Linked DNA regions of Homo sapiens. The protein of the gene in region 2 purifies or fractionates together with the protein of the main gene of each other region. This does not show direct contact. Each region holds a gene or a part of one and is shown on either strand. Other genes may lie near its edges.

Evidence for each region.
Region 1: the proteins of DROSHA (region 2) and SMAD5 purify together in Homo sapiens (co-immunoprecipitation; one study listed by IntAct). This does not show direct contact.
Region 3: the proteins of DROSHA (region 2) and USP36 purify together in Homo sapiens (affinity purification with western blotting; one study listed by BioGRID). This does not show direct contact.
Region 4: the proteins of DROSHA (region 2) and YLPM1 purify together in Homo sapiens (affinity purification with mass spectrometry, with the first as the bait; one large-scale study listed by BioGRID). This does not show direct contact.

The regions. Positions count from the first base shown.
Region 1 is NC_000005.10:136,149,845-136,153,344, reverse strand, and holds part of SMAD5 (mothers against decapentaplegic homolog 5), read right to left. Parts: intron 671-3,500; exon of another isoform or gene 587-670; intron 1-586. UniProt on the Homo sapiens protein: Transcriptional regulator that plays a role in various cellular processes including embryonic development, cell differentiation, angiogenesis and tissue homeostasis.
Region 2 is NC_000005.10:31,525,594-31,529,093, reverse strand, and holds part of DROSHA (ribonuclease 3), read left to right. Parts: 5' UTR 1-34; coding exon 35-54; intron 55-2,181; coding exon 2,182-3,015; intron 3,016-3,500. UniProt on the Homo sapiens protein: Ribonuclease III double-stranded (ds) RNA-specific endoribonuclease that is involved in the initial step of microRNA (miRNA) biogenesis.
Region 3 is NC_000017.11:78,813,315-78,816,814, forward strand, and holds part of USP36 (ubiquitin carboxyl-terminal hydrolase 36), read right to left. Parts: intron 1,239-3,500; coding exon 1,098-1,238; intron 560-1,097; coding exon 459-559; intron 1-458. UniProt on the Homo sapiens protein: Deubiquitinase essential for the regulation of nucleolar structure and function. Required for cell and organism viability.
Region 4 is NC_000014.9:74,761,821-74,766,115, forward strand, and holds the start of YLPM1 (YLP motif-containing protein 1), read left to right. Parts: upstream 1-1,495; 5' UTR 1,496-1,669; coding exon 1,670-2,542; intron 2,543-4,295. UniProt on the Homo sapiens protein: Plays a role in the reduction of telomerase activity during differentiation of embryonic stem cells by binding to the core promoter of TERT and controlling its down-regulation.

The DNA.
Region 1 (3,500 bases), about 100 Mb from region 2:
GTATTATCCAAAAATAGCTTCTGGACTCCCTTTGATTAGGCCACTAAACCCTAAAACACTCTTCTAAAATTTGATTCTGAAGTACTTTTCTTCACTGAAATCCATGTTACATGCTATGTCAATTTTGAACGTGATTGTGTCCTGATCTGAATAGAAGTCTTAAAAGAAATCCAGCTCTTCTCTAAGGTCATTATTCTCTTTAAATGTTTCCCAGACTGAGAAGGTTTGGACAAAAATCATGATACTACTGAAGTCACATTATTAGATGCAAATTGTATTCACGGTTGTATAAGATGTACCAAACCCTCAAATAAATCATTATAACTGCCAGTAAAATGGCAAGTATCTATTTGTAAAACTAAGTATGTTGAATAAATTTAAAGAGAATAAATTCATTTTAAAAGGGTCAGTTTCTAATTTTATAATTCCTATCGGCTTATTTTAAGTGATATTTTATATTGGTTAATGAGCTTGCTCCAGGTAAACCACTGTTCTGCACCATTAAGAAGCTCCTGATGATGACAGGTGGAAGTGACAGGCACTCCACCGATAGAAGCTGGTAAAAACCAGGCTCAGTGGCACACACCTGTAATCCCAGTTATTCGGGAGACTCACTTGAGCCCAGGAGTTCAATCACGTCCAGTCTGAGCAACATAGTGAGATCCCATTTCTAAATAAAGAATAAAAAGAATGTGTAAGATCTCCTGCAGATCGCTGCACAGCCAACCACAGACGATAAATACCTACTAAAGTAACAAGAATAACGTTTGGAAAAATGGTGTAACAAAAGATGCTTCCTTTCTTGTGCCTACAATTGCCAAAAGCTATAGCTTTGTCTTTGAAAAATTCTAGCATCAATATTATTCTGGACTGGGGTGCATCTTTCCAGAAAAGAATGTATGTGCTCAGCTAAAGCCCAGACAATAACATAAAGTAAATAAAGATAATGTAAACACAGAGTAAAGTAAAACTGACATACACTCAACAAATAATTATTGATTCTTTGTTACATCCCATGTATTGTGAATAGCCATGATGGGGCTTTTTAAAAAAAGTTATGCCAAGTAGGGTTTAATCTCAACAGTCAATAAACTGATTCATTCAAAATACACTTACTGAGAGCCTACTAAAGTACCAGATACAGTTCTGGATGCCGATCAACTACTGGCAGCTATCCAGCCTTCTATGCTGGAACCATGGTGGGGAAGGGTACAGGGAAGTAAAGATATCCTCCTTATGTATGGATATGCCTTGTGCCTTGTCTTGCCCAGCCCTATGTAGGATGATTTTTCCTAGGCAAACAAAACTGGCCACATTAAAATAGAGAGATATAACAAAGAGAATGAAAGCATAATTGTCACTAACAGGTCACAGAGTATAAAGTGTTATGTACTAAATGAACTGTAAGAAGGGCTGACCTCAGTTGCATCTACATCAAGGATGTATGATAAAATCCATGTGGGTCAGGAAGTAAAACCATGGTTTGGTTGTCTGAGATGAGATGGGAAATGTCAAAGGCAAAGGCACACAAACAAAAAAATATATATATAGGCAGACATGAACATAGCATTTCCTAGGCTAGATAAGAGACAGGCCTGGCTGACTGATTCATGAACACTAGAATATAATGGGGGGCTAGATAGGGTAGTGTACGTATGTGTGAGAGAGTATGTGTATGAGCAACAGAGAGACAGTTAAGGAAGAGGGAGGCAAAAAGACAGGAGCTTCAAGACCAGAATTCTGAATACAATATCATACATGATCAGGCCCTTGGCTTCTCCTTACTCATTTCTTAACCATTATCCTACCTAATTGCATTTAACCACACTTAACTTCTTTCCATTTCTCAAGTATTCTAAGGTTATTTCTATGTGAGGTCTTTGCATCTGATGTTCTCTCCCCTAAATTCTCTTCTCCCGTAACTTAACGCAGCATACTCACTCAAATTAATTCAGTTGTTCAAAGGTCACCTCCTGAAAGAGGAATTCCCTGACCACTTGATTGAAAATAGCATGACAGCCCATTCTCACAACATTCTCTATCCCCTGACCCTGTTCATTTTTTATAGCATTTACCCTAATCTGATATTACATTATCAACTTTGTTTATTTACTTTGTTTTCCCCAATGCAATGTTAGTATGCAGGTAGTCTCGTCTGCCCTCAAAACCACTGGATGCCCTGGACCTAGAATAGTGTCCATTTATCAAATAAATGAGTAAGAAAAACAATTTGTAAAAATATATATACCTTTCTAAGGATGTCTATATCAAACTTAAAACAAAAAAATTGTTATTTATAGATATCTATGATATCAGAGAATAAAAATATGCCTGGAAATGAAACACACCAGACTCAGTCTCCCAAGTTGATGGCATTATAGGCTTGAGCCACTGTGCCCACCAGATTCTGTTCTTTACTAGTATCACTTTTTCAAAGCCTATTAACTTTTCTGTAAAATAGAGATGATGGTTCCTAAGTCACAGAAATATTAAAGTACTAATGTCTATCTAACACAAGCTTTACAAACTCAACAGTACTATTCAAACATGAATTCTAATCATTAGCATTCAGAAAGAAGACGAACCAAGACTTAAGAGACTGGCTAGATCTAGTCCTAATCTAATCTTGCCCATTACTCTTCCACTATACACACCTTCTGATCCAATCCAAATCCCTGCCCCTCTGCCCATCTGTGTCTTCCAAGAGAAATCTTAGTCATTCTTAATGATGAGCTCCAATCTATCCCCTTTTGTGAAGACTTCCTTTACCACCCAATGCTGAAGAGGCTATGGTCACTGAATATTTATAATAAAAACTAATTAATAAGTCATAAATAATATCATAACTTCCCAAATACAGTACAAAATCCTTCTAAGAAGTAGTCTTCAGCACCTGGACCATTGCATGTGCCATACCACACACTATGATACTTAATGAATGGTCACTGATTTTTCTACTAACTGTACCTTGAAATTAAGAGATAATTTCAAATTTTAAACCCACGTTGACTAAGATAATGATAAAATGAGAATTCTACCCACAGAATTAAAAACATTCAGAAGGCAGCTTTGTCAGTAGAAATGGTGGTAAACTCCACTGGGAAAAGGTCATGACTGGAGATACAGGTTTAGCCAGGTAAAGATGAGAAACAGATTTAAGATTTTGCACAAAGAGCTAAAAAAAAAAAGTTTGCAACAGAGTGAAAAGAACAGTAAGTAAACACCTAAATATTACGAAACATTCACTGTTAGGAAAGAGTTTCCTGATAGTGAGTTACTGATAATGCACTATTAAAAAGACAGAACTAGATACAATGGTACTGCAGAAGATTAAACATATGGGAGAGTTTAAAGAGAATGTAAACAAAGAAAAGGCCAGTGACTTTGGTGAATGGGTATGCCACTAAACTTCAAGAGATTGGTTTCAAAAAGAACAATAGGTGTCAGTTTTAAAAACCTAGAACTCTTACTAGTAAAACTAGCACAGGGAGAGGAGCAAA
Region 2 (3,500 bases):
CTGTGGAAGATGTGACATATCCAGGCGGAACATCATGATGCAGGGAAACACATGGTGAGTGCCGTGATGGGAATGGCAATAGTTTGGGAGAACCGAGAGAGGAGCAGACATTGGTGCTGGGCTATAGAGGGTGGAAAGGATTTAGATACATGGGGAGAGGGGATAATGTGCTCATTCTTTCAACAGTGGGCACAATACAATAGAGGGCCATGCCCAGGGCTGGGAAGCCAGACCAGAACAGTTAATAGAAATCCCAGAGCGCTGCCCTGACAGCGCTTGCAGTTCCGAGGTGCAGGCAGACATTAAAGGTGGAATTAGGTCCTTAGAAGGTGGATTGTAATTATTGTAGGACCTGCTAAGAAGCAGCACAGAGTGTTGTGAGAGCAAGGAACCTAACAAAGCCCTAGGGTCAGTGACAGTGGTTGTAGAAAGGCCAGCAAGGATATTATTATAATAGCCATGTAAGAGGTGATGATGTGAAGTAGATGAATTCAGGAAATATTTATGAAGCAGAAACAATTGGATTTTTTGTTTATTTTTTATTAAGGGATAGTTGCCATATAAGTGACAGCAATTTTAAAGTAAATTTTTAGCTAAGGATGGGGGGTGAGGGAGGACAAGTCAGATGATTCCCTGTTACATGTCTTAAGGACTATTAATGGTGTCATTTATTGAGATAGGAAATACTAGGAAAAGAGCAAATGTTTGTCTTGGAGGGCAAGGTCATTAATTCCTTTTAGCATATGTTATGTTGAATTTGTTGGTCCAGGTCAGTGAGACACTCAAGGAGAGAGATGGGGTTGGTAATTGGCAGTGTGGGTCTGGAGCTCAGAAGTTGTGGGCTAAAGGTGTAACTTGGGAGTTTCTGACAGATTGATGTCAATTGAAGCAGTGCAGGTGAGTAGCATCACTTTGGAAGAGAGAGTGAGCAGAGTGCCTGGGCTAGACCCCTGAGGAATACCAGACGGTTAAAGGCCCCCTAGCAGAGAAGAAGCTGGTATGGGAGACTGCCAGGAGGAACAGCCAGAGAAGTAGGAAGGCCACAGTGAAGGCATCATGTCAGGAAGCCAAGAAACGCATCCATGGGGGTGGGGGCTGGGGAGGCAACTGGACTGATTGCTGCACAGAGATCAAGCAAGGTGATTGAAAATGACCTTTGGTTTTCAAGACAAGGTGGGCACTGATCATGTCACTTATTGGAGAGGTGGTGGAAGCTGAAGTCGGATTAGAGTGAGTTAGAAGTATATACACTTTTGTCTTAGCTTGGGCTGCCATGACTAAATGCTATAGACTGGGTAACTTAAACAGTAAACATTTATTTCTCACAGTTCTGGAGGCTGGCAGTCTGAGATCAGGGTACCAGCACAGCCAGGTTTCTGATGCATGCCCTCCTCCTGCCTTGCAGGTGGCTGCCTTCTTGTTGTAGTCTCACCTGGTAAGGGGTGGGTGGCAGGGATTTCTTTTCTCTTTCTCTCTTCATAAGGGTACTAATCCCATCATAATTACCTCTCAGAGTCCCCACTTCCATATAGCATCACATCAGCGTTATGATTTCATCAGCAGGAATTTTGGGATGGACACAAACATTCGGTCTGTAGCAACGTTTTCAGGTCATTTGACTGTAAAGGGGAGGACAAAGAAGGGGCAAAGTCAAGGGAGACCTGGAGGCCAAGGAAAGTACTTTATGTTGGAATAGACCTGAGCACTTTCAAATGCTGATGTGAAGGGTCTGGTATCAGGGAGAGGTGGAGGATTGCAGAGGGGGGGTGGTAATCCCAAATCTGCATTTGGAGATGGGAGTGGGGGCTGGGGAGGCAAGCCCCCTTGATCTTGTGAGGTCAAGATCAGAGGGGAACTTGAGCAAAGGCATGACAGCAAATGGTGAACAATGGGATGTTGAATTGGTCATTTTGGAAGTGGAGCAGCTTTAAGGAATGGTCGGTCCAGGGACTAAACATGGCAGTGGGCTGGGTGGCCAAGAAAGGGGAAGAGGAGTTTATTGAGCATGAGGGTTTCAGATGTTAGCAGGAACCCAGTATTAAATGGGTGGCCTATTCCAGTGGCTTGACTAGGGGGTCTTTGAGTTGCTCATCAAGATGGTCAGGCATTTATGAAACCCTGTTTACATAGTAAGAATTATTTTTTAAAAAAACTTTTCCCTTTTTCTTTTCTGCCATGAAGTCACAGAATGTCGTTCCACCCGGGACGAGGGTGTCCCCGAGGACGAGGAGGACATGGAGCCAGACCCTCAGCACCATCCTTTAGGCCCCAAAATCTGAGGCTGCTTCACCCTCAGCAGCCTCCTGTGCAATATCAATATGAACCTCCAAGTGCCCCTTCCACCACTTTCTCAAACTCTCCAGCCCCCAATTTTCTCCCTCCACGACCAGACTTTGTACCCTTCCCCCCACCCATGCCTCCGTCAGCGCAAGGCCCTCTTCCCCCCTGCCCAATCAGGCCGCCTTTCCCCAACCACCAGATGAGGCACCCCTTCCCAGTTCCTCCTTGTTTTCCTCCCATGCCACCACCAATGCCTTGTCCTAATAACCCCCCAGTCCCTGGGGCACCTCCTGGACAAGGCACTTTCCCCTTCATGATGCCCCCTCCCTCCATGCCTCATCCCCCGCCCCCTCCAGTCATGCCGCAGCAGGTTAATTATCAGTACCCTCCGGGCTATTCTCACCACAACTTCCCACCTCCCAGTTTTAATAGTTTCCAGAACAACCCTAGTTCTTTCCTGCCCAGTGCTAATAACAGCAGTAGTCCTCATTTCAGACATCTCCCTCCATACCCACTCCCAAAGGCTCCCAGTGAGAGAAGGTCCCCAGAAAGGCTGAAACACTATGATGACCACAGGCACCGAGATCACAGTCATGGGCGAGGTGAGAGGCATCGGTCCCTGGATCGGCGGGAGCGAGGCCGCAGTCCCGACAGGAGAAGACAAGACAGCCGGTACAGATCTGATTATGACCGAGGGAGAACACCATCTCGCCACCGCAGCTACGAACGGAGCAGGTAAACCGCTTGTGTGTAGTTCTTTAATGAACTGCAGAGGCCCAGGCACGGTCATTCTCCATTTATGACAACCAAACCAAAAGGATCCAGTAGGGCATCTTGATTTATGTAAGGAAAGGAAGCACATTTTGGACTCTGTTTTCAAGAGGAAGAAACAACTGACAAATAAGTTGATGTCAGAAAAAAATTGCTTTTAAAAAGCATTCCAAATATATCAGTGTAGATTCATTTCAGTGAATATAAGACTTTTACTCTGCATAATACAGTTGACATTTTAATGATGATCCCATGAGATGAAAGATCTTGTATTTTTTGTGTTATCATAGATTAAATTATGTTCAATGTGATCATCATATCAGGTTATAGCATTTGAGTTTTTTTGGAACTGGCGATCTGCGTGTTAATAAAGAATCAAATTAGTTAACAGGAAGGACTTTCTGAGTTTTAGGATAAGTAGAAATTTATTGTACATTGTTGCCTTCTTG
Region 3 (3,500 bases), on a different chromosome or scaffold from region 2:
CAAAAATGCCTCAGCTGCCACGGTCTCCAGCCTCCAGGTCAGTGACAGCCAGCTCCAGGAGAAGGCCCCTCCAGAGAAGCTCTGCAGCAGCACCCCCACAAACACGTCCTTCCCAGCATATCCCTACAGGGGCAGCTTCCCCACACGGGAAGGGGCATTGGCTGGCTACCATCCAGGGAGCAGTACCTCTAATTTGGGGCAATACTATAAATGGTGACTTTCCTGTTTACATTCAAAACAGCATCAATGTGAGGGCAGATGGGATCCTGTCCTGACCTTCCCAAGGCTCTGGCTTTACTAAAAAGTGTCCTTCCCTGTGGACGGTCTCTATGACACATGACAAATCCCTCCAGTGGAATTCCCAATTACCTTCAAACAAAAAAAGGTTAGGGAGGCCCACCGGTATAAGAAAAGAGCAGAGGGAGTGAGCTCATCTGGGGAGGGCGTGAGTTTATTACCGCAGATAGAACAGCACGTAGGCCTGCTGGTTCAGAACCACCTTGACGTTGCTGGAATGGACCAAGGAATCATTCATCTGGTACCACTGTCCATTGCTTGCCTGAAGCAGCCAAGGATGTTGCAGAAAACAAAACAATCAACAAGCATCCCATTATCCTCACTTTTTAAAAAGGGAATAAAAAATCTGTTAGTTGCTACATTTCCAAACACTATTAATAATCAACAGGTAACAACTTCTATTAAAACGTGTAATATTTTCATAACTCGGAATGTGACCCCAAAGTGTGCTCTGCGTCCCAGTTCCTTCCTAGTGCCCCAACAGATAGGAACTGTCCCTTCTAAAGGACATTCAGGCAGTGTCATCACCATGGCCGATTTTGCCAGGGTTCTAAGGATGGCACCAGAAGCGGCTGCCTCTTCCGTGTCTCCCTGCAAGTCTGAGAACACTAGATTCTGGTGCAACACTTCTGTAAAGGGCATCTTTTCACTCCACGCAGAGAGGCAACAACGAGGACTTGAATACAACCACAAAACATCACACTTTTCACAAAGTAAGTGCTCTACAGAGGCCGCATCTGGATGTGCATGGGTGCTGAAACCTGTCCCAGGAGGCAGCTGCACTGACACAAGCCTCTCACCTTCACGTAGCAGTAATAGTGCCCGGCATGGCAGCTGTAGCCCGAGTGCACCAGGACAGCATAGAGTCCATACATGACAGGATCACCATTATTCTGGGACATATACGGACGTATGTTGAGGAATTCCGGATAGCCTACATCCTGTTTGAAAAATCAAGGAAAAGACAAATAAAATTCACTTTGAGAGTAAAGATCAATTTGCCCTTTCCATCCACAACCACACAAAATGCCCAGCTTGTCTGGTCTTTAACAATTTGGGGGCCGGGCACAGTGGCTCACGCCTGTAATCCCAGCACTTTGGGAGGCTGAGGCAGGGGGATCACCTCGAGGAGTTCGAGATCAGCCTGACCAATATAGCGAAACCCCACTTCTAATAAAAATACAAAAAATTAGCTGGGCATGGTGGTGCACTGCCTGTAATCCCAGCTACTCAGGAGGCTGAGGAACAAGAATCACTTGAACCCGCGAGGCAGAGGTTGCAGTGAGCCGAGATCGAGCCACTGCACTCAGCCTGGGCGACAGAGCGAGACTGTCTCAAAACTGCCCCGCCACAAACAAGAAAAAGACAATTTGGGGCGAATGGGTGTGCAGCAACGCTGTGCAGGAGCTCCCCCAGGCAATGATTAAAAACCAAGATGCTGGCCAGGTGCGGTGGCTCACGCCTGTAATCCCAGCACTTTGGGAGGCCGAGGCGGGTAGATCACAAGGTCAAGAGATTGAGACCATCGTGGCCAAGATGGCGAAACCTTGTCTCTACTAAAAATACAAAAATTAGCCAGGCGTGGTGGCACGTGCCTGTAGTTCCAGCTACTCAGGAGGCTGAGGCAGGAGAATCGCTTGAAACCAGGAGGTGGAGGTTACAGTGAGCCGAGATCATACCACTGCACTCCAGCCTCGCAACAGAGCGAGACTCCATCTCAAAACAATCAAAACAAACAAACAAAGAAAAAACACCAAGATGCTGAGAAGTGAGTCTTCTCCAGCCAGCCTATGGGAAACTTTATTGTCCCATCAAGCAATGCAGGATCTGTTCTTGTCTTTGTCAAGCATCTCCATTAGTTCTCTCACCACCTGGTTCCTAACGATCAAATGAGAAGGGTCACTCATTTTCTTTCCCTCCACTTTACAGGAACATTGTTGGTGGGAGAAAAGGGAGAGAATGCTGGGTTTTAGATCTTCAGAAATAAAAGTGCTGAATTAATATAGCCAACTGCTACCGCAAGTAAGACTTTTAATCAACTGGATCAGAAGAAAGGTCATGCTAAAATGTCTTCCCAAAACTGACCAATTTTTCATAGAAAAAAATACACGCACACATATACATAACATGCATACATATATGCATACATGCACGCATAAAATACATGCACACATATATACATACATGCATACATACATCGTATACACACATGCACACATATATACATACACACACACATATGCATGCATACACATGTACGCATATACATACATGCACAACACATACATGCACGCACACATGCATACGCACACATACACACACATATACACACATGCATGCACACACATATACATACACACACATATAATACGTGCACACACATATATACATACATGCACACACATATATTCTTAGCAGTAATAGTGCCTGGCATGGCAGCTGTAGGCTGAGTGCACCAGGACAGCACAGAGCCCACATGACAGGATTGCCATTATTCTGGGTCATATACAGACGTGTGTTTAGGAACTCCGAAAAACATACGCATAATTTTTTTTTTTTTTTTTAAGAAACACAGTCTCGCTCTGTCACCCAGGCTAGAGTGCAGTGGTACATTCATAGCTCACTGTAACTTCAAACTCCTGGACTCAAGCAATCCTCCTATCTCTACCTCCCAAGTAGCTGGGACTATAGGCACGCGCCACCATGACTGGCCAATTAATAAAAATTTTTTAGGCCGGGCATGATGGCTCACACCTATAATCCCAACACTTTGGGAGGCCGAGGTGGGTGGATCACTTGAGGTCAGGAGTTCAAGACCAGCCTGGCCAACATGGTGGAACCCCGTCTCTACTAAAAATACAAAATTTAGCCAAGCATGGTGGCACACATTTGTGGTCCCAGCTACTTGGGAGGCTGAGGCAGGAGAATCGCTTGAACTTGGGAGGCAGATATTGCAGTGAGCTGAGATGGTGCCACTGCACTCTAGCCTGGGTGACAGAGTAAGACTCCGTCTCAAAAAAAAAAACAAAAAAACCAAAATTTTTTTGTAGAGACAGGGTCTCACTATGTTGCCCAAGCTGGTCTTAAACTCCCAGTCTCAAGCAATCCTCCCACCTCAGCCTCCCTAAGTGCTGACATTAGAGTTGTGAGCCATTGTGCCCAGCCTAAATCATTTTTTTAAACTGAGTTGTGGGATTTGTTGA
Region 4 (4,295 bases), on a different chromosome or scaffold from region 2:
CCCAGGCTGGAGTGCAGTGGCACGATCTCAGCTCACTCCAACCTCTGCCTCCTGGGTTCAAGTGATTCTCCTGCCTCAGCCTCCTGAGTAGCTGAGATTACAGGTGAGCACCACCACGCCTGGATACTTTTTGTATTTTTAGTAGGCATGGGGTTTCACCATGTTGACCAGGCTGGTCTTGATCTCCTGACCTGGTGATCTGCCTGCCTCAGCCTCCCAAAAGTGTTGGGATTACAGGAGTGAGCCCCCGCGCCCTGCCTCTGCGTTTCTTTTCTGTCTATGAAATTATCCCGATTGTTCTGCTCATTGGAACACTGTTTCTGCTTTATAGAATGAGACGTTGCCCAATTCTAGAATAGCAGGTAAAAGTTAATTAAGATCTTTAAACTAAATTTGTTGTAATTTTGTCTTTTGACATGTAATTTTCTGTATATTCGTTATACTTCAATAAAAAGTTAAAAGAAACATAACTAAATTTCTATTTGAAAACAGAAGCTCTTCCTTTTGAAGGATGCCTTGCTGCTCCACTTTCCATTCACATTCACCTCCTGAGAGAGGTGAAGATCTGGGTTGCTAAGATGGAAGAAAGGTCAATTATTTGCATGTTACTCAAGTGATGCACTGACACAATATTCTCACAGTTCTCCCTCCCCCCGCCCCCCCCCACACACCCAAAAGAATTCAGTGTATTAGCTTTGCTTTTTAGTGATTCACTCAAGCTAAAGTAAGAGTTTATGTCTGGTATTACGTTGAGAGCTTTTGGAAGATTATCTTCCAGGTTGTCTTTAGACCATCTTTGTATCTGGTTTTTGCTCTCTTTGCTTTTGCTCTGAGATTCTGCAACACCGATTTATATGTGTTGAGACAGTCTAAAAAATTCCATTTCTCCCCTTCTACAATTCCTGCAGATGTTACTCACTATATGTCTGCAGGAATTGGTGTAATCTTACACTCTGCCTTGAAAACACCTTTCCATTCTTCACAGCTTTGTTCCCAGTTGAATTTCTGGGGAGAATTGAGTTAGGTCTATTCATTTAATTTGGGAGAAACTGACATCTTTACAATTTTTCCTCTTTTCACCCAGGATCATGGTAAGCCTCTCCATTATTTGAAGTCTAATTTCATCCTACTTGGATATGCTTCTTTATGACTCTGTAGCTTTCTACATATAAGTCCTACATCTTTCTTGTTAGAGTTTTTCCTAGTTGCTTTATGTTTTTTTGTTGTTGTTGCGATTGTTGCTATTGTGAATGGAACCTTTTTTTTTTTTCATTCAAAAATGAACCCGTGGAGCGATAGGATCTCTACCACCTCTTTCGGCTGTGAGACTCTATGGTTTTTCAGTTCTATGAGAACATTCTACTGGAGCCTACATTATCTGAACCCAAAGGAAGATGGCAACCACGAGTCGCCAAGTAAAGGACCGCTCTATCTCGCCTTTGTTCTCCTCTCGGTGGTTACTGCGCAGACGTAGTCGCCCAAGTCGCGTCCCCGCCTTCCCGGTCGCGGGCCCAGCTCGGGAGCGCCGGCGCACTGGCGCGCTCCGTTTACACGCTCCGGGGCCTGTAGGCGCCGCGAGTTCCGGCTGTCGCCGTCGCCGCCGCGGCTCCTGGAGGTCGGTTGCGACGAGTAACGGCGCCAGGACGAGCCCTGCGCCTTCTTTTTCGATATGTACCCGAATTGGGGCCGGTATGGCGGGAGCAGCCACTATCCGCCGCCACCGGTCCCACCGCCGCCGCCAGTGGCGCTTCCTGAGGCCTCGCCGGGGCCCGGGTACTCGAGCTCGACGACTCCCGCGGCCCCCTCCTCCTCGGGCTTCATGAGCTTCCGCGAACAGCACTTGGCGCAGCTCCAGCAGCTGCAGCAGATGCACCAGAAGCAAATGCAGTGCGTGCTTCAGCCCCACCACCTTCCTCCGCCCCCTCTGCCGCCCCCGCCAGTGATGCCGGGGGGCGGCTACGGAGACTGGCAGCCGCCACCGCCACCGATGCCCCCGCCACCCGGGCCGGCCCTCAGCTATCAGAAGCAGCAGCAGTACAAACACCAGATGCTCCACCACCAACGAGACGGGCCTCCTGGTTTGGTTCCAATGGAGCTGGAATCCCCCCCTGAATCTCCCCCTGTGCCGCCTGGGTCCTATATGCCCCCATCTCAGTCTTACATGCCCCCACCTCAGCCGCCACCCTCTTACTACCCCCCGACCTCATCTCAGCCCTACCTGCCTCCTGCTCAGCCGTCCCCTTCGCAGTCCCCACCTTCCCAATCCTACCTGGCGCCCACCCCTTCTTACTCATCCTCCTCCTCTTCCTCGCAATCCTATTTGAGCCATTCCCAGTCCTACTTGCCCTCTTCTCAGGCATCTCCTTCCCGCCCCTCCCAGGGCCATTCTAAATCCCAACTACTAGCTCCACCACCACCGTCCGCCCCCCCTGGAAATAAGACAACTGTCCAGCAAGAGCCTTTGGAGAGTGGGGCCAAAAACAAGAGTACTGAACAGCAGCAAGCCGCCCCTGAGCCAGATCCCTCTACGATGACTCCACAGGTAAGAAAGCATCTGCCTGAACCTCATCTTTCACCTAGAGGGCCCTGAATGAGCAGGCCTCAGGGCTTTAACCAGTGGTTAGTCTAATTCCAACACACAATGACTAGCTAACACTCCAAAGGATTCCGTAAGAGTCAGAGGGCTGACAGCTCAGCTTTTTAATTAGCTAGATGTGAATTACCAAAAAAACAGCGTTTGTAGATGTGTATGGATTACATACAGTGGTGGGGTGGCTCAAAAGTTACCTCTCAGATACATTCCTTGGTTTCTTTGACCATCCTCTTAGATTTTGTTGCTGTTGCAAATAGATTTTGTTGCAGAGGGTCTTGTTTTAAAATTGTATTTTAAACGAAAGTTTCCATTTGAGAGAAAGCATGAAAAAGAGGCCTCGCCAAGGGCTGACACTTGAATGTTTGTAAACTTTATGATTAGTTAGCTTCTTTTAAAAATATTACTTAGGGGCCAGGGATAGTTGTCAGCTTCCTGAATTAAGAGGTTTCAGAAAAAGGATGGAAATCTTGTCTTACCAGGAGCATCCTAATTATGCTTATAGGTACATATACAATACATAGATGAGTCCCGAGACCCTTTTGGGGATCGATTGGTCCATTTTAGGAATTGACCCAGACATCCTTTTCTCATATTATTTAAAGATTGTTTTAAGATAATGAGCAATTTTCTGCGTTTCATTGTCATTACCATTCACTCCAAAGAAACAGCCTTGCAATTTGGCCAACGTAAAAAAAGTTTGGTGATATCTTTTCATGAGAGAGTCAGCCATTCTTATCCCGCAGAACAGACAAATTGACAGGGTAACAGTAATAAACGAGTTCCCCCTTGAGAGAGGGAAGGTCAAACTAAAGCAGAATAAATCAATTGTTATGATTTCCTAAAGTAGACACTTTTTCAGCGATTACTAATTTACCTTAGATTCACTAAGGAAAAAAGAGAATCTTGTAATATAAACGCTCAGATTTACCTATAAAAGATTTCCAAAAGATAGGGATGCAGTATTATAATTTTACGGTGGTTTGGCATTAGAAATTAAGAACAGAAGCAAGTTGTTTTAAGAAATGATGCTTGGCACATCTTCTGGAGAAAACACTTGGGATGCTGAAATAAAGTAGTAGAATAATGATTCTGTTGGCTTACATCAAATTTGTACCATCTCACCAGTTTATTTTCCCCAGATTGCTCTATTATAGAGACAGACTTTCTGTCCTCTTTCCCACCCCACTCTGAAGTCTTTAGTGCTTTTGTTGTCAAACATTCTCAGTTAGTCTGAGCCAAAATAGGACATTTATATTCTCACTCTACTAGACTGTTTTTCTGACCTTACAGAGAGACAAAATAATTGTATTTTTGGCTTTTTTTGGGAGGAGTGTGTGTGTCAGATCAGGCCTTAATATGTATAGTTACCATGAACAGTGCTTTTACTTTTCTGCCTTTGTACCCTTTTCTGTAATGAACTCAGTGTCTTGAATATTCAGTGCCTGCAATTCTTTGGTGAGAGGCAGAGTGGTGGAAAATGAGACTTGTGGTGCACATAGACCAGATCAAGAAGAGCCTTGAAGCCTGTGGCTTTCTTTCTTCTTTTTAGAATTCATCCTAACCTCCTCAACCCTCTGTTTCCCCTTAGAGTTGTATTGCTTTCAAGGCATATCTCAAATATCAAGGTTTCCATGAAGCCCTGCTTGTGCTCACCCATCTGGTTTGGTTCTGTTCTTCAGATTGTAAGTCCCTTGCAGACAGG